Linked DNA regions of Homo sapiens: regions 1, 2, 3, 4, 5 and 6 are each reported to be linked to region 7. The links are microRNA targets in miRTarBase. Many come from high-throughput screens and were not tested one by one. Region 7 holds a microRNA gene; each other region holds the end of a gene's coding sequence. Distances are from middle to middle.
What was found. The annotated mature microRNA hsa-miR-4478 reads GAGGCUGAGCUGAGGAG and lies in region 7 at 2,804-2,820, shown strand. An mRNA with a match to its seed (bases 2 to 7 or 8) in the 3' UTR can be bound and repressed. Matches are read on the target gene's strand: a 7mer-m8 pairs with bases 2 to 8, a 7mer-A1 pairs with bases 2 to 7 and ends in A, and an 8mer does both.

Region 1: miRTarBase lists DCD as a target of hsa-miR-4478. Seed matches in the 3' UTR shown: 8mer at 1,115-1,122.
Region 2: the mRNA of CD1D is a reported target of hsa-miR-4478. Seed matches in the 3' UTR shown: 7mer-m8 at 1,442-1,448.
Region 3: miRTarBase lists AQP6 as a target of hsa-miR-4478. Seed matches in the 3' UTR shown: 7mer-A1 at 3,743-3,749 and 7mer-m8 at 3,067-3,073.
Region 4: miRTarBase lists SLC35D2 as a target of hsa-miR-4478. The part of its 3' UTR that is shown has no 7-base or 8-base seed match.
Region 5: the mRNA of PADI1 is a reported target of hsa-miR-4478. Seed matches in the 3' UTR shown: 7mer-A1 at 2,269-2,275.
Region 6: miRTarBase lists LRRC47 as a target of hsa-miR-4478. Seed matches in the 3' UTR shown: 7mer-m8 at 3,326-3,332 and 7mer-m8 at 3,153-3,159.

What each region holds. Positions count from the first base shown.
Region 1 is chr12:54,641,561-54,645,775 of GRCh38, reverse strand. DCD (dermcidin) reads left to right here. Exons shown (of 5, transcript NM_053283.4): 3 at 69-170; 4 at 514-603; 5 at 1,020-1,187. The coding sequence ends at 1,063. Among named protein-coding and RNA genes, the nearest start is that of DCD, 4.7 kb to the left of the region's middle.
Region 2 is chr1:158,183,939-158,186,938 of GRCh38, reverse strand. CD1D (CD1d molecule) reads right to left here. Exons shown (of 6, transcript NM_001371762.2): 5 at 2,904-3,000; 6 at 512-2,810. The coding sequence ends at 2,789. Among named protein-coding and RNA genes, the nearest start is that of CD1D, 4.5 kb to the right of the region's middle. RefSeq lists an enhancer at 737-1,250.
Region 3 is chr12:49,975,230-49,979,422 of GRCh38, reverse strand. AQP6 (aquaporin 6) reads right to left here. Exons shown (of 4, transcript NM_001652.4): 4 at 2,284-3,958. The coding sequence ends at 3,752. LOC105369764 (a long non-coding RNA gene) reads left to right here and starts at 3,918. Exons shown (of 3, transcript XR_001749143.2): 1 at 3,918-4,125.
Region 4 is chr9:96,317,834-96,322,048 of GRCh38, reverse strand. SLC35D2 (solute carrier family 35 member D2) reads left to right here. Exons shown (of 12, transcript NM_007001.3): 11 at 1-51; 12 at 708-1,339. The coding sequence ends at 807. SLC35D2-HSD17B3 (SLC35D2-HSD17B3 readthrough) reads left to right here. Exons shown (of 26, transcript NR_182427.1): 11 at 1-51; 12 at 708-1,051. Among named protein-coding and RNA genes, the nearest start is that of HSD17B3, 18 kb to the right of the region's middle.
Region 5 is chr1:17,243,205-17,247,419 of GRCh38, forward strand. PADI1 (peptidyl arginine deiminase 1) reads left to right here. Exons shown (of 16, transcript NM_013358.3): 16 at 806-2,803. The coding sequence ends at 1,039. Among named protein-coding and RNA genes, the nearest start is that of PADI3, 3.8 kb to the right of the region's middle.
Region 6 is chr1:3,777,547-3,781,761 of GRCh38, forward strand. LRRC47 (leucine rich repeat containing 47) reads right to left here. Exons shown (of 7, transcript NM_020710.3): 6 at 3,966-4,055; 7 at 1,013-3,790. The coding sequence ends at 3,542. Among named protein-coding and RNA genes, the nearest start is that of SMIM1, 6.9 kb to the left of the region's middle.
Region 7 is chr9:122,118,752-122,122,966 of GRCh38, reverse strand. It overlaps MIR4478 (microRNA 4478), which reads left to right and starts at 2,800; the gene lies at 2,800-2,885.

The DNA of each region.
Region 1 (4,215 bases), not on the chromosome of region 7:
ACCTGCTCCCCGACCAGGGTGGAAAGAGTGAAATAGCTATTATTCCTCTCACTCCCTTACCCTTGCAGCTTGCCATGAAGCATCAGCAGCTCAAAAGGAAAATGCAGGTGAAGACCCAGGGTTAGCCAGACAGGCACCAAAGCCAAGGAAGCAGAGATCCAGCCTTCTGGGTAAGCCTCTTTCCCAATGCCTGGTATAGAATTCTGATGCATGAAACAGCAAGATATCTGGGGGCCAGTCTGCCCTCACAGGCACAAGCACAGGGACACAGCTACACCCATATTCCTAGGGAGGGCTTGGGGTGCACACCTGCTTCTACATACAGGGTTTCTGGGCCATAGGTTTTGCAGCTAATACTGGCCTACCAACCTTCCCATGACAGAGAAGTTGGTTCCTTCAGCAAAACCACTTCACCTTAGGGGTGCCCATGGTGCCTAGGAAGCGGGGGAGCTCTCCTACAAAGGAAGTAGTTTTTCTGCTTCTATGACCTCTTCTTTTCTGAATCCACCCTAGAAAAAGGCCTAGACGGAGCAAAAAAAGCTGTGGGGGGACTCGGAAAACTAGGAAAAGATGCAGTCGAAGATCTAGAAAGCGTGGGTAAAGGTGAGTATATGTCCCCACTCCTCCCTCAGGACCAGCCTCAGTCTCCACCCCTTGCATGAGATCTGAAACTGCCACAGCCCCCCCATTGAAGACCCCTCACTTTGTGCTTTCAAATGTCTCCAATTCCTCATCCAGATTTAAATTGCCATTCTTGTCTGATATTGATACTTCCTGGGGTCTAACTTGCTTTTTTTTTTATTGCTCTTGCCCCCTGCCCCTGCCAAGGTGGGGAAGAGAGGTTGGTCTTTGGGGCTCCTGTGAATCTAACCTCCATCCCTCTGACTTCTGTGTAAGCACCTCCAGGCCTCCCTTCCCCTTCCCCTTCCCCTACCTCTCCTTCCCCAATTCCCTGGCTCTCTTTCCCTTCCTTTTTTCTTCCTACCCCTTTACCCCATTTTTTTCTGTGGCTGTCCTAGGAGCCGTCCATGACGTTAAAGACGTCCTTGACTCAGTACTATAGCTGTAAGGAGAAGCTGAGAAATGATACCCAGGAGCAGCAGGCTTTACGTCTTCAGCCTAAAACCTAAAAAAAAAAAAAAAAAAAAAAATTTAAAACAGCTATTAAACTGAAAGCATCTGTAATACTTGGAGTATGTGTGTGTTTTCCTTAAGAAGAGATGGGGTATGAAACCTGGCCAGGAGCCCAAAAGGTTGGAAGAGCACTCCATGAGGCTTCAATTGGCACCCTGGCCCTTCCTCCCGAAACACAGCTTCCAGACCCAGCCTTCCCAGAGAGCACAGCTCCAGCAAGTTCTTTGATTCATGCCCAGCCCCTCACCCATATCTGCAGGGTCTAAGCCTCAAGTCCCAAACTGGTTGCCTCCTTATCCCTCATTCTGCCTGCCCAATGCCATTTTACTATGCATCAGTGTTGAGTGGGACTTTTCTCATTGCCCTGGATTTGGCTCTAGGACCCACAGCTAGAATCATAGACCCCCCAAATACCCCACATTCCATGGAGAACTTCTGACATCTGGAGCCTGCCCACCACCCTGGGACTTCCTTAGAGCTAGAAAAGCCAGCCCAATCCCAATCAATCACAGAACTATCATTCGCTACCCCGTGGAGAAGGAGAAAAGTGGAATCATCAGGGTCACTGGCTCTGATGAGCACTGGGGAAAGCAGTGCACATAGCAAAGAGATTTTTCTTGAAGATCTCCATGGAAGAAGGGAGGGAGATGCTTCTTCTACCCTTCAAGTCAAGTGAAGGGCTGTGGAAATCACTCCTAGATTGAAGGTTCCAGTCCAGGAGGAGACAGGCATCTCCCCCACCAACCTCCCATCCCCAGCTGAATGCACCCTCTAGACTGACCTGAAGCTGCCCAGACTGGAGCACAGTAGGACAGCTCTTGAGAAAGCCGTGTCCCTAGGCATCAAGATTATATTAATTAGGGAAGGCTAATCTACTATAAACAATAATCCAAGATATAATTGCACAAACATGTACAAGTCAAGATGGTTTGCTCCAGATTTGGGGGAAAGAGGCAATAGTCTGTCTTCTCCACAGAGTCGTTTAAGGATTCCAGGATGCCAACAGCCCTGCCACCTTCAATATCTAGCTTCAAGATCATTCTGTCATCTTATCACCATTCCAACTACAGAAAGGGGGAAGGAGCATGGAACAGATTGCTTGGAGGTTTGTATGAGCTATACTAACAAGTTATATAAGAACCCACTCCCAGTGACCACACCTAACTGCAAGGACTGGAAATGCCTAGCAGTAGGATGGTCAAAATGAATGTTTGTCTCCCTGTAGCAACTTCTGCCACAGGGCAAAGTGAACAAAAAGGTGGGTACCTGTTTATCGTCTGACATTTCTAGAAGCAAGAAGTTTTTCATGGTAGCCTGTGGAAGAGATGCAAGAAGACACTCTCATCCAAGCTCCTGAGGCCACTAAAGAGCAAGGAAGAGAACTTAGGATTCCCATTGCTCTCATGAGTGCATTTAGAAGAGGGATCGAAAGCCAAGAAGCTGCACTGGGGGCTTCCAAGCTGGATGGGAGGAGGCAGAACCTGGTGAGAGGGTTGAGACTGTGGGCCACTGGCCCAAAGGAACTGCCACTCTTTGAGGGTTTCCACAGCAATGGCAGGGCTGAGGTGAAGCTAATCACCAACTATCTGGTGACCACCACACCCTGCATCAGTGGAGGCATCCAGAGGAGCAGAAGAATGGAGACCAAGCCAGGAGGAGATCAGGATTTCTCCCTCATTGACTGTGATCAGTGACCTTAGAAGATCTCTGTCCGCCCCATCCCACCTTGCCTGAGATCCAGAACCAGACCCCACCCCTTTTCATGTCTCTCCAGTAAAGTATATGCTGGGGAAAGGAAAGGGAGGTAAGATTTTATACTGGATGGACTCTCAACAACCACAAAGAACTAGAATAAATGGAATCCTCTAAATTTGTCATCAATAAATGGGAAAGGGAGATTTAACAACACATACAAGATGCCTCTCAATTTAGGATGAGGTTACAGCCTGATAAACCCATCATAAGTTGAAAATATAAGTTAAAAGTACATGTAACATACCTAACCTACTGAACATCATAGCTTAGTCTTGCCTACCTTACACGTGCTCAGAACACTTACATTCACCCAAAACTGGGCAAAATCATCTAACACAAAGCCTATTTTCTAATAGTGTTGAATAGCTCATGTAATTTATTGAAAACCATAATGACAGTAGAAAACAGTGTGCTTTTATGGGTACTAGAAGTATGGATTCTACTGAATGTGTATTGTTTTCTCACCGACGTAAAGTCAAAACATTGTAAGTCGGGGACTATCCGTATTTGGGAGCACTGTTTGAAGAAAAACAAACTCCACCAAGTCCTGCCTATTCAAGAAAATATTGTTTCTAAAAATAAACCCACAAGCATCAGGATTTGTCATCATAATGATGATCAAGGGGCTGGGCACAGTGGCTCACGCCTGTAATCCCAGCACTCTAGGAGGCCGAGGCAGGTTGATTGCCTGAGCTCAGGAGTTCGAGACCAGCCCAGTCAACATGATGAAACCCCATCTCTACTAAAAATCCAAAAAAATTAGCTGGGCGTGGTGGCGTGTGCCTGTAATTCCAGCTACTCAGGAGGCTGAGGCAGGAGAATCACTTGAACCTGGGAGGCAGAGGTTGCAGCAGTGAGCCGAGGTTGCTCCTTTGCACTCCAGCCTGGGTGACAGAGCAAGACTCCATCTCAAAAAAAAAAGAAAAAAAAGAATCAAGGACAGCCATTTCTAAAGGGGTCTTCGGTTATGTATATTAAAAATTCAAATCTAATTCTCAAAATGTTAAGGAAAAAGCAAAGAGATGGAAACAAAGGAAGAGCATGATAAAGCAAGCACAATTAAATGTTGACATTTGGGAGCTCAAGTCCCCATTGGATCTAGAAAGAGGATGTGAAAATTCTTTGTACTATTTTTACAAATCCTCTGTAAGTCTGAAGTTATTTCAAAACAAAAAGTAGGTAATGCATATGTTAATTAGCTTGATTTAGCTGTTCCACATGCAACCATATTTAGAAACATCACATTGTATGTGATAAATATATACAATTTTCATTTGTCAATTTTTAAATTAATTAGCTTTAAAATAATACAAAGTAAAAATATTA
Region 2 (3,000 bases), not on the chromosome of region 7:
CAGGCCAAAGCTGGCCTGAAGTAGCTAGATAAGCTGGAAGAAACCCTCCTGGCTTGAGGCAGGGGCTTGCAGAGGAAGTACTGCTCAGTGGAAACCTCCAGGCAGTGGGTGGATTAAGCACAGGAGATGCGAGGGTCTGCAGATAGAATGGGGTACTTGGAGGGGCAGGGACCACAGGCAGCGCCACACAGGATGTCTTCCCACCCACTTCATTGACCCACCACGCAGTAGCTGGAAGCTGCAGGAGAGCCCCTTCCTCCTGCTGTGTCCCTCCGGGGCCCTTTACTGAAAAAGCTTAACAATGTGCTGACTTTTTAAAGGAACTCTGTTCATTGTCACTGAGCCTATTATGAAGAATGAATTTGGAGCAGAGTGGTAATAAATTCACAATCAGCACAACACTCAGTAAGAAACATGATACTCATAAAAAGAGTATTAACATGTTCTAAAATGAATTCTCAGGATTCTCTGAGATATTTGGAACTGAGTATTTATTTGAAGGAAGAAAAAATTTCCTGGAGAGATAAGCCTTTATTTTCTAAATAAATTAAAATTGTTTAAAGATGAGTCAGAGCTACCATAAATTCATGCAGAGGCATTTCCAAAAGGACATCAGTAGAGACTTTAACACACGTGCCCTCAGAATGCAGAAGGCCAGTGGGGTTGGTTCACAAACTTGACACTGCTAGAGGAACCTAAGCTGAAGAGCGCCACGTGAGGGTGGGCAATGTGGTACCAAACACAGCAACAGCCTCCACATCTTTTAAGGCATTACACACTTGAACTCCACAAGTCTAGGAGATAATCAATAATAGATAATTATTATCCTCCTTTGGCACAGGAGGAAACTGGTTCAGAGGCTAGAACTCCAGTCCCCTCAGCCAGTGCACTTGCTGGTTCACCTCACTGCCTTTGTTTTTCAAAGCTCTGCTTCAAATTCCCCTCCCTCCAGGACGCCTTCCCTGACTAACGCCAGGCCAATGTCCTTTTCACTTAGCACTTTGAGGAAGTTGTTGTATAACATTGCACAATGTCTAAGAACAGTGGTTCTCTAACTTTAGCTAAGCATCAGAATCACCAGGGGGCTTGACTATTGAGCCTGCTTCCAGACTCAGAGTTTCTCATTCAGCGGGTATAGGATGAGGCCCAAAACAATTTGCATTTATAACAAGTTCCCAGGTCCTGCTGAGGCTGTTGGTCAGGTTACTACAATTTGGGAACCATTGATTTAAAAGCTAGCATAATTTTTTTTTAAGACAGGGTCTCCCTCTGTCATCCTTACACTGTAGTGACACAATCACAGCTCACACTAACCTGGAATTCATGGGCTCAAGGGATCCTCCCACCTCAGCCTCCAGAGTAGCTAGGACTACAGGCGCTCACCACCATGGGTGGCTAGTTTTTTAATTTTTTGTAGAGACAGGGTCTCACTATGTTGCCCAGGCTGATTTCAAATGCCTGGCCTTAAACAATCCTCCTATCTCAGCCTCCCAAAGCACTTGGATTATAGGCATATCCAAGTGCTTTGGGATATGTTGAAGCTAGCAGAATCTTCACGCACATCCTAAATTCATATGTGCAAGTCTAGTATAGAGAGTGTGAAATGTTACTTTTCTCAAGCAAACACTCTCCAACCGTTAAGTCTCACTTATTTTTTCTGGGTGTTCAGGGACCCTGACTGCCAAGAGATTTACCTCCCAGCTAGGCAAACATGATTTTGGCCTCCTTATTTCTTTGGCATCAGAAAGGTCTGCTACCCCTGTAAGTTTCCTGCTCTGTCCTCTCTAAGATAAGAACACAGCATGGCTGGGCTACCATCACCATCATCGCTGCAGCTCATGCTTGCCCAAGTGGTGTTGGCCCTTTCCCTACATTGTCTCTTTTAATAGCTGTAAGTAAAGGAGACTGTTGTTGTTGCCGTTGTCGTTTTGGGAAGGAAGGGATGCCTTCATGACAATCTTCCTCCAAGGAAAAAAAGTGATGACCATTTGAGAGAAATATCCTTACTCAGAGTAGTTTTTTTCAACATAATACACATACACTATGATTTATCTTCGTTTATTAATTACACCAAGTAAAAATGTGAGACGCCTCTGTTTCTTATAACCTAACTTTCTTTTAAAGAGAAAATGTCCTTCTTCAGTCGTAAATCCAAATTTACAATAGAAACTGTGTCCTCCAACTGCCAATATGACATCCAGGGCAAACTTTTTATAAAAGACACACAAACTCCTGGGTTTGTCATCAGTCAGTAGGTATGTATTTGAGGTGTCCCACATAGTATTTTGTAAAAACTTGAGTCAACCTTTTAAAATCAGGCATGTTCGCTGAAAATCCAGATTTCCAGTTTTCTTGAAAAACGGTTAAAGCCAAGCCAGGTCCTGACTTTATACTTGACAACAAGCAGCTGCAGCTGATTCCTTTGGATAGGACATGTGTGTTCCAGTTCCTTACAGATCCCATCACACACACTCACATCAGCTCTTACCTGCTTGTCCCTGGTAGGTCTTCAGATACAAGTTTGCACACCTTTGCACTTCTGATTTCACAGAGCCATTTGGGCTTATAAACTTGTAGTGTAATTTTTGAAAAAGAATTTAAATTCTTTTAGATAAATGTTAAAAGGGTGTGATGAAAGCTGCCTCATGACTGTTCTCTACTTTTTCAAGGTATCTCTCCTATCTTCAATTCCTTACATCTTCAATTCCTGAGCAGACCAGGACTGAAGTCTTAGGAACCTGAGGTCCAGAGGTCCTGGGTTCCAGAGACACAGATGTGGCAAGGCGAGTCACAGGACGCCCTGATAGGAACTGTGAGAGAATAGAAAGGGAAAGACCATTAAGGAAAAGGGAAGCCAGGAATGAAGGGGAGAGAGGTTGAGGAAAGGGAAAGGGGAGACTTACGTTTGCCTCTTAAACCGGGAGGTAAAGCCCACAATGAGGAGGAACAGCAAGCACGCCAGGACTGCCAAGGCAATCAAGCCCATGGAGGTGTAGCTCC
Region 3 (4,193 bases), not on the chromosome of region 7:
CTAATTGTATTAATCACCAAGGCACCCGGCCCGAGTCCCCCTCCCTTTGGGGAGAATTATGAATTGCAATTGCAGATGGCTCCACTGATTGAAGGCAGTGCTCAGCAGGGAGAAGGGTCAGATCAGATTATACACCATTAATTAAAAACTTCCCTGACAAACAGGAGGAAGGGAATGCACACCAAGGGCTGGCCTGGTTGGGTCTCTGTCCTCCCCATGTCCCCTGCCCCCACCCAGGCCCAGGGGCTATGCCAATGAAGCCTGCTTCCCCCAGCTGGAGCTACTGAGATTCAGCTCTCCAAAGGCCAGCCCTTCCCTCATCCAAACAGATGGCCTGCTGTCCTATTAAAGGGCTCCAGAGGAGGGGAAGCGAACCTTTGGTTACTTATTTCCACGTCTAACCTTGGATGCTCTTCAGAGGCTAACCTAATTCCCCACTTCTCAGGAAACTTATTTCCTCCTGCTCTGTCCTGACAGAACTGCTTTGAAGAACTGTTAGTGAAAATAGCCCCTCAGCTTTCTCTTCAGGCAACCCCTCATATTTTGGCCTGTATGTTCCTGGGACAGACATTGTGAAGCCTGCTCTGAAATTGTGGGTGGAACAGCAAATATCTGGCGATGCACCCTCTCCCCAGCCCCTGCCTGGAAGCATAGGCTTCTCAGCTGCTGTCATACTGGCTTATTTGGAGCTGTAACTCCTGAAATTTTCTCCTCTTGATCTATTACTGCCTCCCATCCTCCCCAACTGCCCAGCCTTATTCATTCATCAAACTTATATTGAGCACCCAGTGTGTGCTTGGCTCTGGGGACAAAAAGCAGTGATCATTTGTCAAGGAGCTTAAGAGCCTACCATAGGAGCTCCACGCCCCCATCCCCTTCAATCCTCTAGTTCCTGTTTCCTTCCTTCCTGGGGCTGCAGCTTGTATGAACCCCCCAGGAGCTCTATTTTGGAAAATTCTCAACTGGGAGCTGGGGAGACCTTAAGTGTTCGTGCTCCTGAACCAGGTGACCTTGAGCAAGTCAATCATGTCCTCTGTTTACACATACGCTCTCATACATGCATACATACAGACACCCAGCTCTCCCTGCTCATAAAAGGACACAGGCAGCCTTGGACTCTGAGAGATTGTGAAGATGGATGAGTGGGGCCCAGCTTGGAGAGATGTGAGTAGTATCTGCGCTGATATTACAGAACGCTGAGCACAGCTACTGGGGCTATGAGCACCAGGGATTCAGCTACTGCACTGGTCACAGGCTGGGCCTGCCACACTGCCCTTGGAAGACTTGGGCAGCCTTTCCCCCATCCCCAGTCCCTCAGGAGACATCACTAAAAAGGATCTATCTTTTGTTTGTATTTTAATTTAATTAATTTTTCATTTTAAATAATAGAGATGAAGTTTCACTATGCTGCCCAGGATGGTCTCAAACTCCTGGCCTCAAGCAATCCTCCTGCTTGGGCCACCCAACATGTTGGTGATTACAGGTTTGAGCCGTCATGCCTGGCTAAGTTTTTAATTTTTTGTAGAGGCAGGGTTTTGCCATGTTGTCCAGGCTGGTCTCGAACTCCTGGCCTCAAGCGATCCTCCCACTTTGGCCTCCCAAAGTGTTAGGATTACAGGTGGGAGCCACTGCACCAGGCCAGGACCCATCTTTTGTTTTGTTTTTTTTGTTTTTTTTTTTGAGACAGAGTCTTGCTCTGTCACCAGGCTGGAGTGCAGTGGCGTGATCTTGGCTCACTGAAACCTCTACCTTCCGGGTTCAAGTGATTCCCCTGCCTCAGCCTCCCAAGTAGCTGGGACTACAATCACGCGCCACCACGCCCGGCTAATTTTTTATATTTTAGTAGGGACAGGGTTTCACCATGTTGGCCAGGATGGTCTCGATCTCCTGACCTCGTGATCTGCCCGCCTCAGCCTCCCAAAGTGCTGGGATTACAGGCGTGAGCCACCGTGCCTGGCCGCCAGGACCCATCTTTTATATGAATTTGGCTGCTGCATCTTAGGGTACCATGGTGATGGGCGTCATAGAGATGAGAAGAACTGATTTTATTGGTTCGCCTCTTCATTCCAGGGCCCTCCCACAGCCCCTCACACCCACAAAGCCTCAAGGTCAGCAGACCCAGGAGAAGAGCACACAGGGTCCCTGGTTAAGTAGATCCAATGATGTGAGAGAAAACCCAGTCTCTCTTCCCTCCCTCTCAATCATCTTTCTCTCTCTCTTTTCCCCTCCTCCCTCTCATTACCAACAGCAATTGTCTTCATACCCAATAATTACAGTAACAGCAACAATAATCATCATTTATTGGGGTTGTTTTTCTAGCATTTTAACTTCTGAAAGTATTTTCCGATTTCTTGATTTCACAGCAGTCCCTGGAGGAGGATTGTGTGTCCATTTTACAGCTGGAGAAGCCGAGATCCAGAAAGGACCCCCAAGTTGTGGGCAGAATAAATCTACAGCAGCTTTTAACTATTAAACCAACTTAGATTTTGGTAGTCTTTCAGAGGCACTGAATCTCAAATCTTAGTTTCCTGGGTCCCTCCTGGGTTCCTACCACCCTTAGGGCTTATTCAACAGCTTTCTGGGGATCCTGTAATGCTGACAGAGAGCCTGGAGACGGCTTCTTTGACCCAGGTCATGAGTCAATGGCTAGATGGGCACTTCCCCTCTGAGGATTGTTCCTGCCTGAGAGTGGGCTGTGGGGTGGGAGCTGGGGCAAGCACCTGGGAGGAGGCTTCCCTGGGAAAGGCCTGTCTGGCTCAAACCTCCCTTCCTCTATCCCACCTCTCTACGAGCCTGAGAAAATGTTCTTCTCTGTGTCAGTTCTTCTCAAGGGTGGGGGCCTCTCCAGAGCATTTGGAGGATTGAGGAATAAAGACCTATTGGGAGAGGCCGGGCACGGTGGCTCACGCCTGTAATCCCAGCACTTTGGGAGGCCGAGGTGGGCAGATCGCCTCAGGTCAGGAGTTTGAGACCACCCTGACCAATATGATGAAACCCCATCTCTACTAAAAATACAAAAAATTAGCTGGGCGTGGTGGCAGGCGCCTGTAATCCCAGCTACTTGGGAGGCTGAGGCAGGAGAATCCCTTGAACCCAGGAGGTAGAGGTTGCAGTGAGCCGAGATCATGCCACTGCACTCCAGCCTGGGTAACAGATCAAGATTCTGTCTCAAAACAAACAAAGATCTATTGGTAGAGCAGTCTCTGTCCTCAGGAAGCCCCCAGTCTGAAGGAGGAAATATAGCCCCCAAAACCACACCCAAGGTCAGAGAAACACCCCCAGGAGCTCAGAGGCTGTCCCAGGGCCTGATTCCTCCAGAAAGCCTGTCCTCTCTGGACCAAGGGTTTCCTGGGTGGGTAAGAAGCTGGGGCTCCCTGAGGTCCCTATAGCTCCCATGTCTAAGCAGAGTGGCTGTCTGGGCTCCCATTCCTTTCTCCCCCAAGACTTGGGCATCTGGGGTCAGGACTCCTACGGGGTCCAGTGGGTGAGAGGATGGGAGGGCGATCCTAAATCCCCTGCCTTCCTCTGCTCTGTCCCACCGAGAGGTGGGGAAGCCCTACAGAGAGGGAATGGGACAAATTCACTCCCAGATTCTACCTAGAAACGTAATGCCAGGGATAGGGCTTGTCCCCTCCAGCCCACCTGGTCAGGACAAAAGGTCAAGCCTCCCCCTCCCGCCACCCCCAGGGAGAACCTCCAGGCAGGTCCTGCAAGGCAGGAAGCCCAAGGGCGCGGCCAGGCGTAGGCTGTTTCACACACTCTCCATCTCCACGGCTCCCGAACCCGGCTGGGATTCCTTCTTCAGGGGCTCCGCCCCTGCCCCTGCCCCTGTCCCCACCTCTACGGTGCCTGTGAGGATAGCCAGCCGCTGCGCCAGGGTCTTGGTGTCGGGGAACAGGACGAAGTTGTAGATCAGTGAGGCCAGGAGGGCTCCCATCAGGGGCCCCACCCAGAAGACCTGAGGAGAAGGATGTCGTCACCCCACCCAGGAGCTATCAGGACCACAGGGTGGCTCTGGGACCGCTGCCTGCTTCCCCAGTGCCGACTTGATCTCCCAGGTCTCCCTCAACTGTCTGTAAGGTGCTAAATTTGAGAACCACGAGTCGTGTTTCCCAAGCCCACAAGGTAAGGGGACCTTGCCCCTTGCTCTCCCTGCCCTCCCTGGGGCTGAGCCCAGGCTCTGCAGCCGTGGC
Region 4 (4,215 bases), 26 Mb from region 7:
CGGTGGAGACTACATTTTCTCTTTGTTAAACTTTGTAGGGTTAAATATTTGGTGAGTGGGAATTTTTAATGGACTCGCTTTGGGAAGACAAGAACCTTAAACACTCTGATTAATATGTAATAAGCAAAAGAGCCTGGAGAAGTCTTTCACGTTAAGCCAGGAGGCGTTTTGACATTCTAATTTCTAAGATAATTTTACTTCATCACTGGGTTCATCCTCATGCAGATCCATGGGGACACGTGTGATGGCAGTTTGCGGGGCTGGGATCGGAATTTAACTCACCTGTCTTCCTCACAGCAGGCCCCTGCGTTCTCTGCCCTCCTCCTATAAAGTGGAGGGTGTTAACCTTTGTGCCCACTAGGCTCGGCATGCAGGGGGTGTGGACTAAGCCAGCTTTGAAAGGCATTTGGGGTCTCAGCAGTGGGATACTATTTAAGGCTAAGGGTATGTAGTTTATTCAGTAGAAACCAAGTGCTTATTTTCTCTCTGAGGTTCTGCATTAGATTTGATGACTCTTTTTCTGCCTCCAAAGGCTTGTAAATAAGGGGAAATTCTCATCAAGCAATCCACAAACTTGAGGAGAAACACAGATATTGGAATAATTCCCTCCGCATGAAGCAGGTGTATTGATAAAAACGCCAGCAACTGCTGCTGGAGCCCCTGTGAAATTCCCAGTCATTTATTTTCACTTTTTTTTCTCCTTTCAGCATGGCAGGGGGCTTGAGATATTCCTTTTTAACACTGAGCAGCCAGTTAAAACCTAAACCTGTGGGTGAAGAAAACATCTGTTTGGATTTGAAGAGCTAAAGAGTCTGCAGCAGGATTGGAGACTGACTTGTGACTGCGGGCTGGGGGGGCATTCCCAGTAGGAATGTGAAGCCAGAGGTTTCGGATTCGTGACATCCACCCCCTGGGCAAGTGAGAGCATCTGCAAAATGCAAAGAGAACTACCTCATATGCAGGATGAGCCAATGGCAGTCTCAAGAAATGTACTCGGGCGACACCTTACCTGTGGAAAGCAAATCTTTTCAAAATAAGCCACTGGGACTCGGTAGGTGGAGCCCCAGCTGCTCTTCTAGGGACCTATGGGGCCTTCGTGGCATCTCTGTGCTGTGTGCTGGGGAGGAGGTTGATGTAATGGTGACTCTTTTCTGATCAGCACCTTGGCCGTGATTCCCAAGGTCCCAGCCAAAGCAAAGGGCCAGTTGTTTCAGTTTAAACAGACATGTCTTTAGTCTAATAAAATTAGTTAACTGCCAGTAAAGTTATTTGTTAGCTTTGATGAAAGCTATGTTGGTATCTTTCCCTAATCATCAAAGTAAATAAAAAATCATTTCTATGTATGCCTCATCATGTGATATTATTGGAGGCAGAAAACGGTGCCCATCATTCACAATGTAACAGAATGTGTCACCTTGAAGGGACAATTCCAGACTCCTTTATGACTCGAGGTTGGGGAAAGCTACAAAGTAACTCAATGGGAAAAAAAAAATACTCAGGCTTTATCCTGTTAGCTATTTTTTTTTTTTTTTTGAGACAGAGTCTCACTCTATTCCCCATGTTGGAGTGCAGTGGTGCAATCTCGGCTCACTGCAGCCTCTGCCACCCGGGTTCAAGTGATTCTCTTGCTTCAGCCTCCCGAGTAGCTGGGATTACAGGCATCTGCCACCACGCCCTGCTAATTTTTGTATTTTTAGTAGAGACAAGGTTTGGCCTCATGTTGGCCAGGCTAGTCTTGAACTCCTGACCTCAGGTGATCTGCCCACCTTGGCCTCCTAAAGTGCTGGGATCACAGGCGTGAGCCACCGAACCCGGCCAATCCTGTTAGCATTTAAGCGCTCACCTGTTTGTTTCTTCTCATCTCCCTCCAGGTTTGTTCAGGAGCTTTTACCACAGGTGCATTTCCTCACATGCTCACCTACCGCCAACCCCTGGTGTATGGGAAGGAGGCCCAAATGGATAGGGTGCCTTTTCCCTCCCTGCGTGGGAATGGGTGTCCCCACTGGAACTGGAGTGCGGGATAGAGCCACAGTCTGGGAGTCAGGAGCCAGACTAACTAATCTTGTCTCTACTATTAAACTCGGGAGACCTTTCCCAAGTCACTTGGCCCGTTGTGGCCTCTAGTATTTTAATCTGTAAAATTCAACTAGATCTCTAAATCCTTGCAAGCTGCAACTTTCTGAGTTTCGAGAAGCTGAGCCAGATCTGGAGCAGGCCAACACAGGAAGGAATCGTGTGGATTTTTATGTGGCTGGGTGCGGCGGTTCACGCCTGTAATCCCAACACTTTGGGAGGCTGAGGTGGGAAAATCGCTTGAGCCTAGGAGTTTGAGGCCAGCCTGGGTAACATGGCCGAAACATCATCTCTACAAAAAAATTAGCCAGGCATGGTGGCGCACACCTCTGATGCCAGCTACTGGGGAGGCTGAGGTGGGAGGATTGCTTGAGCCTGGGAGGTTGAGGCTGCAGTGAGCTGTGGTCACGCCACTACACTCCAGCCTCAGTGACATGGTGAGACCCTGTCTCAAAAAAAACTTTTTTTTTAAATTGTGGTAAAATACATAACAGACTTTACCATCCTAACCATTTTTAAGTGTATACAGTCCAGTAGGAGTAACCATACTGATTGTGCAACCTACCTCTAGAACTTTTTCATCTTGCAAAACCGAAACTCTGTACCCATGAAACAAGAACTCCCATTTCCCCATCCCTCCGGCCCCTGGCAACCCCCATTCTACTCTCTTTGTGAGTTTGACTATTCAAGATACCTTATATAAGTAGAATCACATAGTTTTTGTGACAGGTTTATTCACTTAGCACCATATCACCGAGGTTCATCCATGTTGTAGCATGCAGAGCATCCTTCCTTACGTCTGAATGTGTGGTGTGGATTTGCCGCATTCTGTTTATCCAGTCATCTGCTGATGGACACTCGGCTTGCTTCCACCATTTGGCTATTATGAACAATGCTGCTATTAATATGGGTGTTCAAATATGTCTTCAAGGCTCTGCTTTCAATTTTTTTAGATATATGCCTAGAAGTGGAATAGCTGGATCCTGTGGTCTTTCTATTTTTAGGTTTTTGAGGACCTGCTATGCTGTTTTCTATAGTGGCTGCACCATTTTACATTCCCGCCATCAAGGGTTCCAATTTCTCCACAACCTCAATAACATTTGTTATTTTCTGTTTCATTTTTACTAGTAGCCATCATAATGGATGTTTTAAAAAATAATTTATTTTTATTTTATTTTGTTTTTAGAGATGGGATCTCACTATGTTGCCCAGGATGGTCTGCAACTCCTGGGCACAAATGATCCTCCTGCCTCAGCCTCTGGAGTAGCTGAGACTACAGGCTCACCTGCCTGGCTGTGTTTTGGTTTTGATTTGTATTTCCCTAATTAATCGATTAGTGGTGTTGAGCATTTTTTCATGTACTTGTTGGCCATTTATTTATCTTCTTAAATAAATGTCTATTCAAGTCCATTGCCCATTTCTTAATCAAATTGTTTGTTTTATTGTTGTTGAGTTGTAGGAGTTCTTTACTGTTTCAATACGCTTTTATATTTAATTTATTTTATTATTATTATTTTTGAGAGAGAGTCTCACTCTGTCTCCCAGGCTGTAGTGCAGTTGCATGATCTCGGCTCACTGCAGTCTCCATCTTCCAGGCTCAAGCGATCCTCCCACCTCAGCCTCCCGAGGAGCTGGGACCACTACTAAAAAATTAGCCTGCCTAATTTTAAATAGTTTTTGTAGAGACAGACTCTTGCCCTGTTGCCCAGGCTGATCTCGAACTCCCAAGTTCAAGTGATTCTCCCACCCTGGCCTCCTAAAGTGTAGGGATTACAGGTGTGAGCCACTGTGCCCAGCCTTCAATGTGCTTTTAAGAGGCTTCTGGAGGGCTGGGCATGGCAATATGGCAAGATCTGTGTCTACAAGCACAAATAGTAAGATAAAATAATTAAAAGGCTTCTGGAGTGTAAACTTGGAGCTCCCAGACTTTTTTTTTTTTTGAGACAACGTCTTGCTCTGTCTCCCAGTCTGGAGTGCAGTGGCATGATCTCGGCTCACTACAATCTCGAACTCCTAGGTTCAAGTGATCTTGTGTCTCAGCCTCCCTCCCAAGTAGCTGGGATCATAGGCGTACGCCACTACGCCTGGCTATTTTTTTTTTTTTTTTGTATTTTTGGTAGCGACTGGGTTTCACCAGTTGGT
Region 5 (4,215 bases), not on the chromosome of region 7:
CCCCCATAGCACAGCATGGGGGAGAATTCCCATCCCCAGATTAGGGCCCCAAGCCAGGTCCGCAACCAAGGGAAGGAGAGGTGCCCCCAGAGTTAAACTCAAGTGTCCCCAAAGGCTTTTTCAGCCCTTTCCCCCAACTCCTCAGTCCCACAGGTGGCCAGATAAAAAGCATGGATTTTGGCACCAGCCAGATCCAAGTCCAAATGTCAGTCTCATCATTCTCTGGCTGTATGATTATGTGACTTAACCTGTCTGAGCCACAGCTTCAGAGGGAGGCTGTGGCATTTAGTGATGATATATCTGGCACATAAAAGATGCTCAATAAATGCTAACAATGATCAGGGCTGCCAAAGACAGTTAAGCAAGCTGTGCACAGCAAAAGCACACCACACTTTGGAAGACATCCACACCACAGACCTTGTAGGTGTGTATATTTGTTGTACAAGTTTCTGGCAGATGACACGAAAATCTCTTGTTCTAACAAAGTTGCTATAATATGACAATTTTCTCATAGATGAAAGAAAGAGTGGGAGAAGTTTTTTTTTGTTTTTTGTTTTTGTTTTTTAATGTACAAAATTCCTGGTAGTCCTGGCTGTTATTCAACCTCATTTCCAACCCTGAATCTTTTTCTCCTCTGCTTTCATAGGCCCTAACTCTTGAGCAAACTCCAGTCCTAGAGCCCTTTCTAGGCTGTGGCTATGGCCAACCCATTCCCCAGGGCCTGTCTCATTCTGGCAAGGAAGGGGTGCCAGAAGCACAGCACTTATAGCCAGACAGCCTCCCTCTTGCCTTTTCTCTTTTGCAGGTTAACATGGTGGTCTTAGGCAAGTACCTGGGCATCCCCAAGCCCTACGGGCCCATCATCAATGGCCGCTGCTGCCTGGAGGAGAAGGTGCAGTCCCTGCTGGAGCCTCTGGGCCTGCACTGCATCTTCATTGATGACTACTTGTCCTACCACGAGCTGCAGGGGGAGATCCACTGTGGCACCAACGTGCGCAGGAAGCCCTTTCCCTTCAAATGGTGGAACATGGTGCCCTGAGCCTGCCCCCACCCGCCATCCTCTCTGCCCTCTTGCTAGGGAACCCTGCCAGGGTGAAGGCAAGGAACAACCACCTGGCCTCCATTCTCTTGGGGGAGTCTTGGCACTTTGCAAACATCCTGGCCACCATGGGCACCAGGACACAGGGATGGATACCACCTACCCTCGCCTCTGGAATGGCCTACCCAACCCGAGAAGAATGCACCTCATTCTTCCCTGGCCTCTTTCCCACCCACAGCCCCCAGAGGCTCTAGATCAACAATGTTAGCATGTTCCAGAATGGCTGTGGGAGGCCTAGGGAGATGGGCCCCACTTAGAATTGCTCCCCCTTCATTCTGATGCCTCCCTGGGGAACAAGGATAATGACTTTGCATCTGCACCTGGAACGGGGCCTGGGGGACCTGGGGTCTGGTGTGCCAGGCACCAGGCTGCCTCTGCTCTTGGAAAACTAGGAAAGGGGATCAGAAACATCCTCTCCCCGCTCTAGGTTTCTTCTCCCAAAGGGGACCCAAGGCTGTGACACTTACCTCCACCCCCATCCAGCACCCTTCAGCTGTGTGTGGACAAACAAGGACAGAAAAACCCAGTGTCCAAGGGCCAATTTAAATAGAAAAAAAGACAACAAAATTTTAATAGCTGACTCCGACCTCAGAAGAGTGATTGCTACCTTTCTGGAAAGACTTTAATTACCAGAGCTGGCTTCTCCCAGCTCAGAAATGCTGAGAAGCCAACGTGAGGCCTGAGGACACACAAAGGATGACGGGGCAGGAGGGGATGAGGTCAGGGTAGCAGAGTGTGTGACGACGGATTTGGGGGCCTAGAGGTGTCCGTGGTTCCTGGGCTGGGATTTTGGACTCTGGATTTGAAGGGAGCTGGAGCTTCCAGATGTAGCAGGGGTAGGGGGCCAGATGTTAGAAGAGGGTGTGTGTGTTGGGAGGAAATTAGGTTATCTCTGAAGGTGGAGTTTAATTTCCTTTAATAGTCTTTAATTATTCCCCTTCATTCTGCAGGCAGTGGGAGGGGAAGGCTTGCCCGGTCTCTCTCAGCAACCCAGGGACCCTGCACATAGCTTAGGTTTCATCCCTGAATAAACCGCTGTGCAGGCCCATGTCCCCTCCCACAGTAGGGAAGACAGCTGCCACGGGAGGTTAATAGCCCGGAGTGAGGTCACTGAGACATGCACAGGCAGGCTGGTTCAGCTGGGCTGCAGGGCACGGGCAGGAGGAAGCCAGCCTACCCTCTTCCCCCACTGCCAGTGAGGCCATTGTAGGGCAGTTGGCCCTAGGGCTTCGGTCCATCTAGGTTTTCAGTGGCCCCTGCTGAGACCTCACACTGAGCCAACTACTGTCACTGTTTTAACCAACAAAAGCTAGCCTGGAACTGCTATGGTTAAAGTGGGTGAGCGGGAACCTGAAAATCCCCTTCTGGAAGGTTCTACAGAACTCTATTTGCAAGCTCCTGCTTTAACCTGAGCGTCCTCTGCTCAGGATCATACCCCAGCCTGCACTGAGTCAAGAAGGAGAAGGAGGCTCTGAAGGGGCCGGGGGTGTGAGCTGGGGTTGGGACTCCCCTGAGAAAGAGCTGTGGGTAGGAAGGGAGTGAGCATTGCAGAGATAGGGCTGGGGGTCGGGGCCACACTGAGTGTGGGAAGCTCTGGAGTTGCTGCTGGGCCATCGAGGGGCCCTGGTGTTGGCTCTGAGAATGTTCTGGGTGACCAGTCACCTACTTTCTGATCAATAAAAATGTCGACATGCATTTCTTACAGGGCTGTCTACCCAGCCTGTTTGTTGGGTTGGGGAGGAGGGGAGGAAAGCGGAGAAGACTGCTTCCAGTTCCATCCACTATGAAGCTGCTTGGCTCAATTTCTGCTGCCACAGGCGGCCCCTGCTCAGCTAGGAGAGCCTCACAGTGCCACGGCCAGTGCCACGGCCAGTGCCAGGCAGGCTGATTCAGCAGGATGGCTGGCACATTGCCTCTTGCTCTGGGGCTGATGGCCCTGCTAAGATGGAGATCAGATCAGGGGAGGGATGGGTCCTGCCTCTTCATCTCTTCTCTCTTCCTTCAGCATCCCCTCCATCTCTCAGGGACAACAGGTCGGGGAGGCAGCCCGGGCCCTATTAACAGAGGTGAGAGTTCCCCAGCAGGGCTGGTTCCCAGGGCCACAGGCCACTACAGTTCCCTTTCTGGTTTTCGTTTTGTTTTGTTTTCTTTTCTTTTGTTTGAGACCGAGTCTTGCTCTGTCACCCAAGCTGGAGTGCAGTGGTGCTATCACAGCTCATTATAGCCTTGAATTCTTGTGCTCAAGCGATCCTCCCACCTCAGCCTCCTGAGTAGCTAGGAATACAGGCACAGGCCACCATGCCCAGCTAATTGCTAATTTATTTTTTACGGAGCTGGGGTTTTGCTATGTTACCCAGGCTGGTCTCAAACTCCTGGGCTCAAGCGATCCTCCCATCTTGGCCTCCCAAAGTGCTGGGATTACAGGTGTGAGCTACTGTGCCTGGCCCAATTCCCTTCCATTTTTGTGTCTGAAGCTTCTAAGTTACCTGGCTTCAGTGGTCTGATTTTGGATGCCTGAAATCATCACCCTCTCATCCTACACATTTGCTGCTGCCTCAAATTACACCGTTTGATACTCACTCACTTTATTTTAGCTTTTGTTGTGGAGTAAGAGGGCAAAAAGTTGCTGCCTATTAGTCATTGACACTTTAGTCTGAATTAACCACAAACCTGTTTCTAAAAGTTGGTATTAACAGAGGAGAAGTGAAGGCATGAGTCTCCTTCCAAAGACATATACAGTTCTCCGAGAAAGAGGCAGGTAGTGGGCCAGCACCCCAGGGAAAGCCCCTACTTTCTGCATCTATTCCCCATCTGTGCTCACAAGAAGGCTAGGGAGACTAAGGCTTCCTCCTGAGCTCGAACTCTTACCCAGGGCTCCCAAGGCTGACTCAGCCATCAAGCCATTCCACAGCTGAAAAAAGTGAAGCTGTCCCTTGACCCAGAAGCCCAGCAGTTCTCCTTGAAAAGAACATCTTTCCCAAAAACTGAGACATGGGAATGACAATCTCAGGGTCCTGTTGAGGCCCTTGAACTGGTGCAGATGTCCCAGCTGGAGATGCTGGGGAGCGGGTCCTGGTCCCCATCCTGTCTCAGGCTGTCAGCACTGCCAGGGAGAA
Region 6 (4,215 bases), not on the chromosome of region 7:
CTCCCTGAAGCCCAGCTTCACAGGACAGCACTGCCTTGGGGCTGCTGTAAGGAAGTGGCAGAGGCCGCTGGGCCCAGCAGTTTGGCTGCATGGGCCCCAGAAGGCAGCACTCCGACCTGGGGGTCCTGGGGCTGGGCCTCCCCAAGAACTGGTGCGGCCCAGGAGACAGGCGAGGGCACAGGATGGGGATGGGAGCTGTCCCAGTTCTACAGTCAGAGGGGAAGTGGCCCTGGTGCTTCTGCCACGGGTCCCGCATGCCAGTGATGCCCACGCACCCCCACAAATGCTCCTTCCCACCTGTCAGGGGCTGGCATCAGATGGCACAGGCGCATGTCGGGTCTGCCCTGGATCTGTCTGGCTGCATCTGGGTCCGCCCTGGCAGGGGCCCAGCATCTTCAGCCAGGGGCTCCACCAGCAGCCCTGCCAGCCCCAGCAGGGGAGGCTACAGGCAGACACCCACGGGTGCTCATTGGGCCAGGCACTCAAGTAACCCACAGCCGCCTCTCGGGCACACCACTTGTCCCCTAAGTGACCATGGTGGAGACAGCAGCTCCAGCCCCAGTACCCCCAGGGTCATGGACCTAGGCTGAGCTGAGCAGTGTCCTTACAGCTCTGGGAGGGTTGGGGAGAGGATGGGACAGGACCCTGCTGAGTGGCCGCCTGGCCTACCCTCCCAGAGACTCACGAACAGGAGGATCTGCTGTGGATGCGTCTGGGGCCTGGGCTCCTCTGACTGTGCACCTGGGGTATCCAGGCAGCCCGACACCTCTGGTCCACCTTGTGCTCCAGGCAGGGGCCCAGCAGGGTGAGGCCAGTTCCCAGGACCCCTGGTCAAGGGCACCAGCTTCCCCATGACAGTGGCAGGTGCCTCTTGCTCCCTGCTGGCAAGATCTGGGTGGGGACAGGAGGCCCTCAGCCTCCCCACATAGAAGCCACCACTGGGCTAGAGTGAGCTTTGTGACACTTCGAGCAACAACCTCTGGCAGTGCCGGTGGGAAAGGATCTGCTGGGCCAGGTGCGGAGCTGTTTTTATTAGTGAGTCGGGGGGTGGGGTGGGGTGAAGAAAACATCAGAGACACCTGTGCTGCGAGTTAAATACATTTCCAGCATCTCACGCATCACAAGCTGCATCAGGAAAGGGCACAGCATGTGGCAGCCTCATCCACACCCACGCAGTGACAGATGTGTTACAGCATGGACACCAAGTCCCCGGGAGCCAAGATGGCAGCTCCAGCATCCCTCCCTTCCTCCCTTCCTCCTTCCCGGGCTGGGCCGGGCCATGCAGAGAAAGGGCAGCCTCTGCCATGGCAGCCCCAAATCACCTCTCAGAGCAACTGTCTGGGGTCCCCAGCCCCAGAACTCCAGCAGAGTCCTGGCCTGGGGAAGCCCCCGTGCCGCCTCAAGCCTCCAGCAGGGCAGGCCCCTGGCCAACTGTGGCATCTGCCTTGACTGCCCAGAGCAGCAGGAATCAGGTTTTGGGAGGACACAAGGCAAGGCAGTCATCTGACACACCCACGGCAGTCCAGCTGGCACTGAGTGTGTGGGCCTCGTCCTGTCTGGAGTCCCCTCCCTCCCACAGTGGGCGAGACGGGAAGGCCTGGCGGTGACCAGACAAGTGGGTCCAGGTCTCAAGGCAGCCTGGCCCATGTCCTGCAAGGCTCTGAAGAGCCACCCAGCTGTTAGTCTGCCCACTGCACAGGGCCCCGGGCCTCTCAGGTTGACAACTAAAGGTGTGTGGGCTGTGGGGCTCTTGCAGATGCTTCCCAAAATCACCAGTCATTTCTACAGACACAGAAATCGAGACACTGAACAGAGAACAAATGGTGTCATTCGATAAAGCTGATGAGTCTGCTTCTCACATGGCACCCAGATCGTAAGGCAGTGGGGTCTGTAAAATCATCGCGGTGGCTGGCCGTGTCCTCATGAGCCAAGCACACTGACTCCCGGGAGTGGTGTGCACGCACATGTGGTGCCTGGACATACACGAAGACACATGGACGTGGGGGTCTGACCTGGACATTCACAACGGAAACGTCTACAACAGAAGGCGCCCAGGACCCACCTTTCTGGCGCATAAATGAAGATTTTTGGCTCAAAAACCTAAGCATCCTCCAGCTTTTGCTACCATCTGTCCCTCGGCTGGCTGAGGACTGCCGATGCTTCCCAAGCAGAGGCGTCTGGTCCACTCCTGGGGCTCCACCTGCCTGTCACTGCAGCACCAGCGTGCACACGATGGAAACCCCACCGATGCCGCTCTCCTCCGCTTGGCCCCGCTGAGCCAGGGTGAGGTGCTGCCACTGCCTTCAGCCTACAGGCTGCTTGCCTGAAGGGGTCTCCACATCTCCACCCCCACAAAGCAATCCAACAGCAGTATGAAGAGACGCAATTCTGCCAATTCTAAGGTCACATTAAAACTTTTCCCCCCAAGATTATGATCACTGCCAGCTGGAGAACCCAACGCCCTTGCACATGCCAAGCTGCATCCTGGCATGATATGGTTTTACAAGATGCTGCGTCATAGAAAGTGACCGTGCCGTTCAAGGAAACGCACATCGGTTGGCTTCCCAAGTTTTCGGGTCTCCGAACCAGTGACAGTCACGTGTCGCTCAGTGACACATGAGAAACGTGTGCTTAGCCGCTGCTGTGTGATCACAGAGTCTTTACACAAGCCTCGATGGTGCATGTAGTTTTATTTATGTGTTTTCATCTGGAAAACCAAGTGTCCCAGCAGCATGACTGAACATCACTCACTTCCCCTACTTGATCTACAAGGCCAACGACGAGAGCCCAGACCAGGATTCCAAACACACTGCACGAGAATATTGTGGATCCGCTGTCAGGTAAGTGTCCGTCACTGACCCAGACGCTGTTACGTGGCACATGACTGTACAGTGCCACGTAACAGCACTGTACTTTTCTCCCATAAACAGTTACCTGCCATGTATCTACATGATTCAGAACATTTTGAACAGTTAATTCTGACACTTGAATAATCCCATCAAAAACCGTAAAATCACTTTGATGTTGTAACGACAACATAGCATCACTTTACGACAGAATCATCTGGAAAAACAGAACAACGAATACATACATCTTAAAAAATGCTGGGGTGGGCCAGGCACAGCTCACGCCTGTAATCCCAGCACTTTGGGAGGCTGAGGCGGGTGGATCACGTAATCCCAGCACTTTGAGGGGCAGAGGTGGACAGATCATGAGGTCAAGAGATCAAGACCATCCTGGTCAAAATGGTGAAACCCCGTCTCTACTAAAAATACAAAAATTAGCTGAGCTTAGTGGCACACACCTGTAGTCCCAGCTACTTGGGAGGCTGAGGCAGGAGAATCGCTTGAACCCAGGAGACACAGGCTGCAGTGACTCGAGATCACGCCACTGCACTCCAGCCTGGCGACAGAGCGAGACTCCATCTCAAAAAAAAAAACCAACAAAAAAACTGGGGTGAAAATCTAACGGATAATTCAGCATTGCCGCATAGAAACCTCCGCAAAACCGGCCAAACAAACGCGGACAGGCGGCCCTGGCGTCAGCGCACGACAGTCACGTGGGGAGGGGCAGTGGCCAGGTCGGCCTTGGACGGGTACACCACCTTCAGGCTCCCTTCCAGATCCACCACCCGGACCTGCTCCACCACCAGAAGGGAGGGCCCGTCCTTTCCAGCACTGGGATTCGTTGTGGGATCTGGAAGTTGTCCAGAGACTGCATCGGCTTCAGTATCTGAGAGTGATCCTTCCTCTTTATTTTCTAAAGTGTACTTTTTCATTTCTGCCATTTTCTGCAAATAAAAAATACCTTTTTAACCTGGAGATGAGAGGTGACCCAGGGAAGACATGCTGCTGTCTGCCAACACAGTAAGCAAAAAAGAGGCAAGCAGGACGGGTGGGAAGTCAAGGAGCAGAGCACCACTCACGCTCAAAAGCGTTTCTCAGGAGGAGCCACCCCACACTCACCAGAATGAGGGCATCCATGACATCCTTGCAAATCTGCAGACTGGTGGCACTTGTTACTTCCAAAAACAAATCAGAAGTCGTTTTCTTAACCTTAAAAGAAAAAAACATTTCAGAAAAGAACAGTTATCAAATGTAGACATCAGCAACTGCAACATTTGTTCTCAGGAAAAATCTACAAAACTGTGTGGCCAGGCACAGTGGCTCACACCTGTAAATCCAGCACTTTGGGAGGTTGATGTGGGAGGATTGC
Region 7 (4,215 bases):
CTTACCGCCTTCCCAGCTCAATGTGACACCCCCCATCTGACCACAATAAGTGTGTTAAGTGAGTAAGGTCAATGGCACAGGTATAGCATGTGGTGAGAACACAGAATGCTAGCCCGAGGAGGCCTACAGGCGTGTGCAAGGTTAGCTGAGTGAGGACAGACCATCCCATGAGCTTGGGTTAAACCTGCCTGCAGCGACCGTCTGTGAAGGTGGCCTCTGCTTCCTCTTACGGGGAGTACTGGGGTGGGGGTGGGGCTGCCTCTGCCTCTTCTGTCTGCCCCCAGGGCAGAGCTCTGGCTCTTTGTGCAGGCTCCTTGTCCTGCCACTGTTTGCCCTCTCTGGGACATGTCAGCACCTGTGCCCTCTTTGGGCCTCAGGGCTCATCGAGACAAGGAGGGAAAGAGCATGAGAGTCTCCTCAGCACTGCTGGTCCTCAGGTCTCTGAGGCAGCCCCACCCTATCCTGGGATGCCTCCCAGTGCTGCCCTGTGGGTCTGCAGTCCTTTGGTGCCAGTTGGTGGGAGGGGCAATGTGAGGGTCACGACAGTTGATTCCTGGCTCTGGGCCGCCATCAGATCTTCAGAGGGGCTGGTGTGCTGGTGGCTGCTGGTGGCCTCAGCTGGGGACAAGGAGTCAGGGTTGGAGCCTCATTCCATGTCTGACAAAGTGTGGCTTTAGTTGATCACTGCTGGTGGGTGGCAGGGAAGCTGAAGCCAGGGCAGGAGCAAGAGGTGGCCTGGGGAGACAGTACCTCTGTGGAGGGCCCCTTCCCCTCAGAAGCTGGGCCAGCCCAGGGCAGCCGAGGACAGTGACACAGGAGAACACCCACGGGCCAGTTGTCCGGTGCCAGCTCCCCGGCTGTGTGATCTTGGGCAAGTGGGCAACCCTCTCTGAGCTATGGTAGGGAGACCTATCCAGAATTCAGGAAAGCATGTTATAGGCCCAGGGCAGTCCTGGTATTGGGGCAAAGAAGGGCAGGCAACCCTGGGTCACCGACTTGTCCTAGGGGTCCAGTCCCCGGGATTTGGCCTCTTGGAGCCCACTGGGTGGGTGTCTAGGGGAAACTGAAGATGGATCTGACTCAGTTGGGTCCTGGTACCAGCATTTTGGCTTGGGAGTGGGAAAGGGTAATAAAGGACTCTACAGTCACAAGAGCTTGGCCGCTGCCTGGACAGGCAGCCTATGCAAGTCCCCTCCTATCTCTGAGCTGCCATTTCTTTATCTTTCTGAGTTCCACCTGGGGCAGGACCTTCAGCTTCCCAAGTCTCACCAGACCATCGCCTCCCGGGTGCCAGGCTGAGTTGGCTCTCAGGCCCTCTCTTTCCCAGGCGGGCCTCGGGTGGTGCCAGGTGCCGCAGGAGCTTCCGGTTGGTGCAGGGAGCTGGCTGGCGTGGGCTGTCTGAGGGCAACTGTCTCGGTGCTTAGCTGAGGCCTCATCGAGTGGCACCTGTGGCCCGGGCCAGCTGGGATGGGAAAGGGTGGTCTGGCCTCCACCTGCTCAGCTCACTTGCCCTCTAGCCACTCTCACTTGAGCCTCAGCCTCCTGTATCTGCTGCTGCTGCTGGAGCCCAAGGGGCTGGGGCCATGGCTGGGTGCCCCAAAGACAGGAGAGAAGGAGGTGCTGGGGCTTTGCGCCCTGGAGGGGACAGCTAGAGACTCATCAGGCAGGAAGTATCTCCTCTTCTTGATTCTGATCCTTCACCCACCTATGTCAGCCTCACACCTGTACCTGTACACCTGTGGGGCAGCCTTCCCCACCTGTGGTTTTCCCCACTTCTGGAGCCCTAGAAGAATATGTAGAGCAGGCTTGGGGTGTGGCCCCATGGAGCACCCCCAAACTGCCTCTGGTCCCCAGGCTCCGGCTTGTGCTGTCCCTTCCCGCTGTCTGGATTTTGGCCTGTCTGTGGGACCTTGAGGAGCCTGGAGCCTGGAGCTGCCAGCTCGTCTGGGCCCTCCAGGCTCCAGGATCTCTGGAGGCCATGGGTGGGGCTGGTGCTGGCCTTGTTGGTGTTGCTCCTGCTGGAGTAGTGGTGCCCTCTGGCATCTGTGCCTTCCACGGCAGGTCACTGGTGCCATTTGCCATGTGCAGTGGGTGCTGGAGTCTAAGCTCGTGGAAAACTTCCAAGGCCTGGGCTATGGTCCTCATGGCCGTGCGGCCTGCCTTGACACACACAGAAGGGACACATGCACTAGTGTGCGTTCAGGGGACACGTGAACACACCCCTCATATTCAGACAGGTGTAAACAGCTCAGCCACACAAGTGCTGAGCTCCAGCAGACTCACGCACGCAGCCACACATATAGACAAGGTACAGGTGTAGCCAGTGTGTGAACATTGATAAGTCTGTCAAGGCAGATATGTGCACAGTCCAGAACACAAGACGGGTAGAAAGGCAGACCTACAAATGTGCACAGATCCCTGCCAACAAACATGCATATCCATACATGCACATATGCATACACAAGCTGTCATGGGCACACTTACAGGGGAACATGCCTTACTCAGAGCACAGAGCATTTCTCCAGCCCTCCCTGCATCCACTGCAAATGGGGACACATGTCCTATCCCTCAGCAGGCAGGGAAGGGCTGGGGGAGGGAACTTCACCTTTTCTTAGACCCATGGCAATGGAAAGTGGGCACCATCTTGGGTGATGTAGCCAAATGTCTCCTGTTCTGGGAGTCTCGGCACACATAGAAGATTCTGGAGAGGAGGGGGAGGTGCAAGGCATGATCCACTTCAAGCAGCCACCAAGCCCAGTGGGAGCTGGGTCTCTGGGCTTAGCAAGACAAGAGCCCAGGGGCCGAGGCTGAGCTGAGGAGCCTCCAAACCTGTAGACAGGGTCATGCAGTACTAGGGGCGAGCCTCATCCCCTGCAGCCCTGGCCTCTGCAGGGACAAGGGAGAGGAGAGGGTACGTCTGCAGGAGGGATTGTGGATTCAGCCTCCCATGTAGGATATGAAGCGACTCAGGCTGGGAGCAATCAGAGATCCCTGGGTTTGTCATGGCGCTGGGGTCTCCTTAGGACATCAGAGCCAGCTGTTACCTGCAGGGAAACCATCCAGATATATTTAGATACACACATACTTAGCATTGCATTACAATTGCTGACAGTATTCAGCACAGTACCATGCTGTACAGGTTTATAGTGTAGGAGCAATAGGCTATGCCATGTGGCCTAGTTGTGCAGTAGGCTACACCATCTAGGTTCATGTAAGTTTGCCCACCAAAATTGCCCGGTGACACATTTCTCAGAATGTATCCCCATCTTTTTTTTTTTTTTTTTTTTGAGATGGAGTCTCACTCTGTCGTCCAGGCTGGAGTGCAGTGGCACGATCTCGGCTCACTGCAACCTCCGCCTCCCGGGTTCAAACAATTCTTCTGCCTCAGCTTCCTGAGCAGCTGGGATTACAATCACGTGCCACCACACCCAGCTAATTTTTGTATTTTTAGTAGAGATGGGGTTTCGCTATGTTGGCCAGGCTCATCTCGAACTACTGACCTCAGGTGATCCGCCCACCTCGGCCTTCCAAAGTGCTGGGATTACAGGCATGAGCCACTGTGCCCGGTCGTATCCCCATCATTAAGTAACGCATGACTGTGTTCATAAGGTTGTGCAACCGGTTCCACTATGGCGCTCCAGAACATTTTTGTGACCCCACAAGAAACCCTGTGGCCATGAGATGTCACTCCCCATTCCGTCAGCCTCTGCAACCACTAATTCACTGTTCGTCTCCATGGATTTTCGTATTCTGGGCATTTGGTAGGAATGGAATTAGACATTATGTGGCCTTCCGTGTCTGGCTTCTTTCACTTAGCATAATGTTTTCAGGGCCCTGTGCCTCTGGTTTATAAGTGAGGACACTGGCCCAGACAGAGGGAGTGACTGTCCAAAGTCACATAGCAGCCAGGAGTCAGGCCCCTACACAGTGTTGGCTTTTTTAGGACCTCAGCCTTGGTCCCTGGGGTTGTGGGCTGTGGACAATGGAAGAGGTCACACTTCATCTAAAGGGGCAGCTATTACTCAGCTCTGCCTGGGACAGAATCCAGGGGCAGCACTGCCTAATACTAAACACTGTAAATAATGATACAAACGGCCAGGCACGGTGGCTCAAGCCTGTAGTTCCAGCTACTTGGGAGGCTGAGGCAGGAGGATCACTTGAGCTCAGGAGGTCAAGGCTGCAGTGAGCCATGATTGTGCCACTGCACTCCAGTCT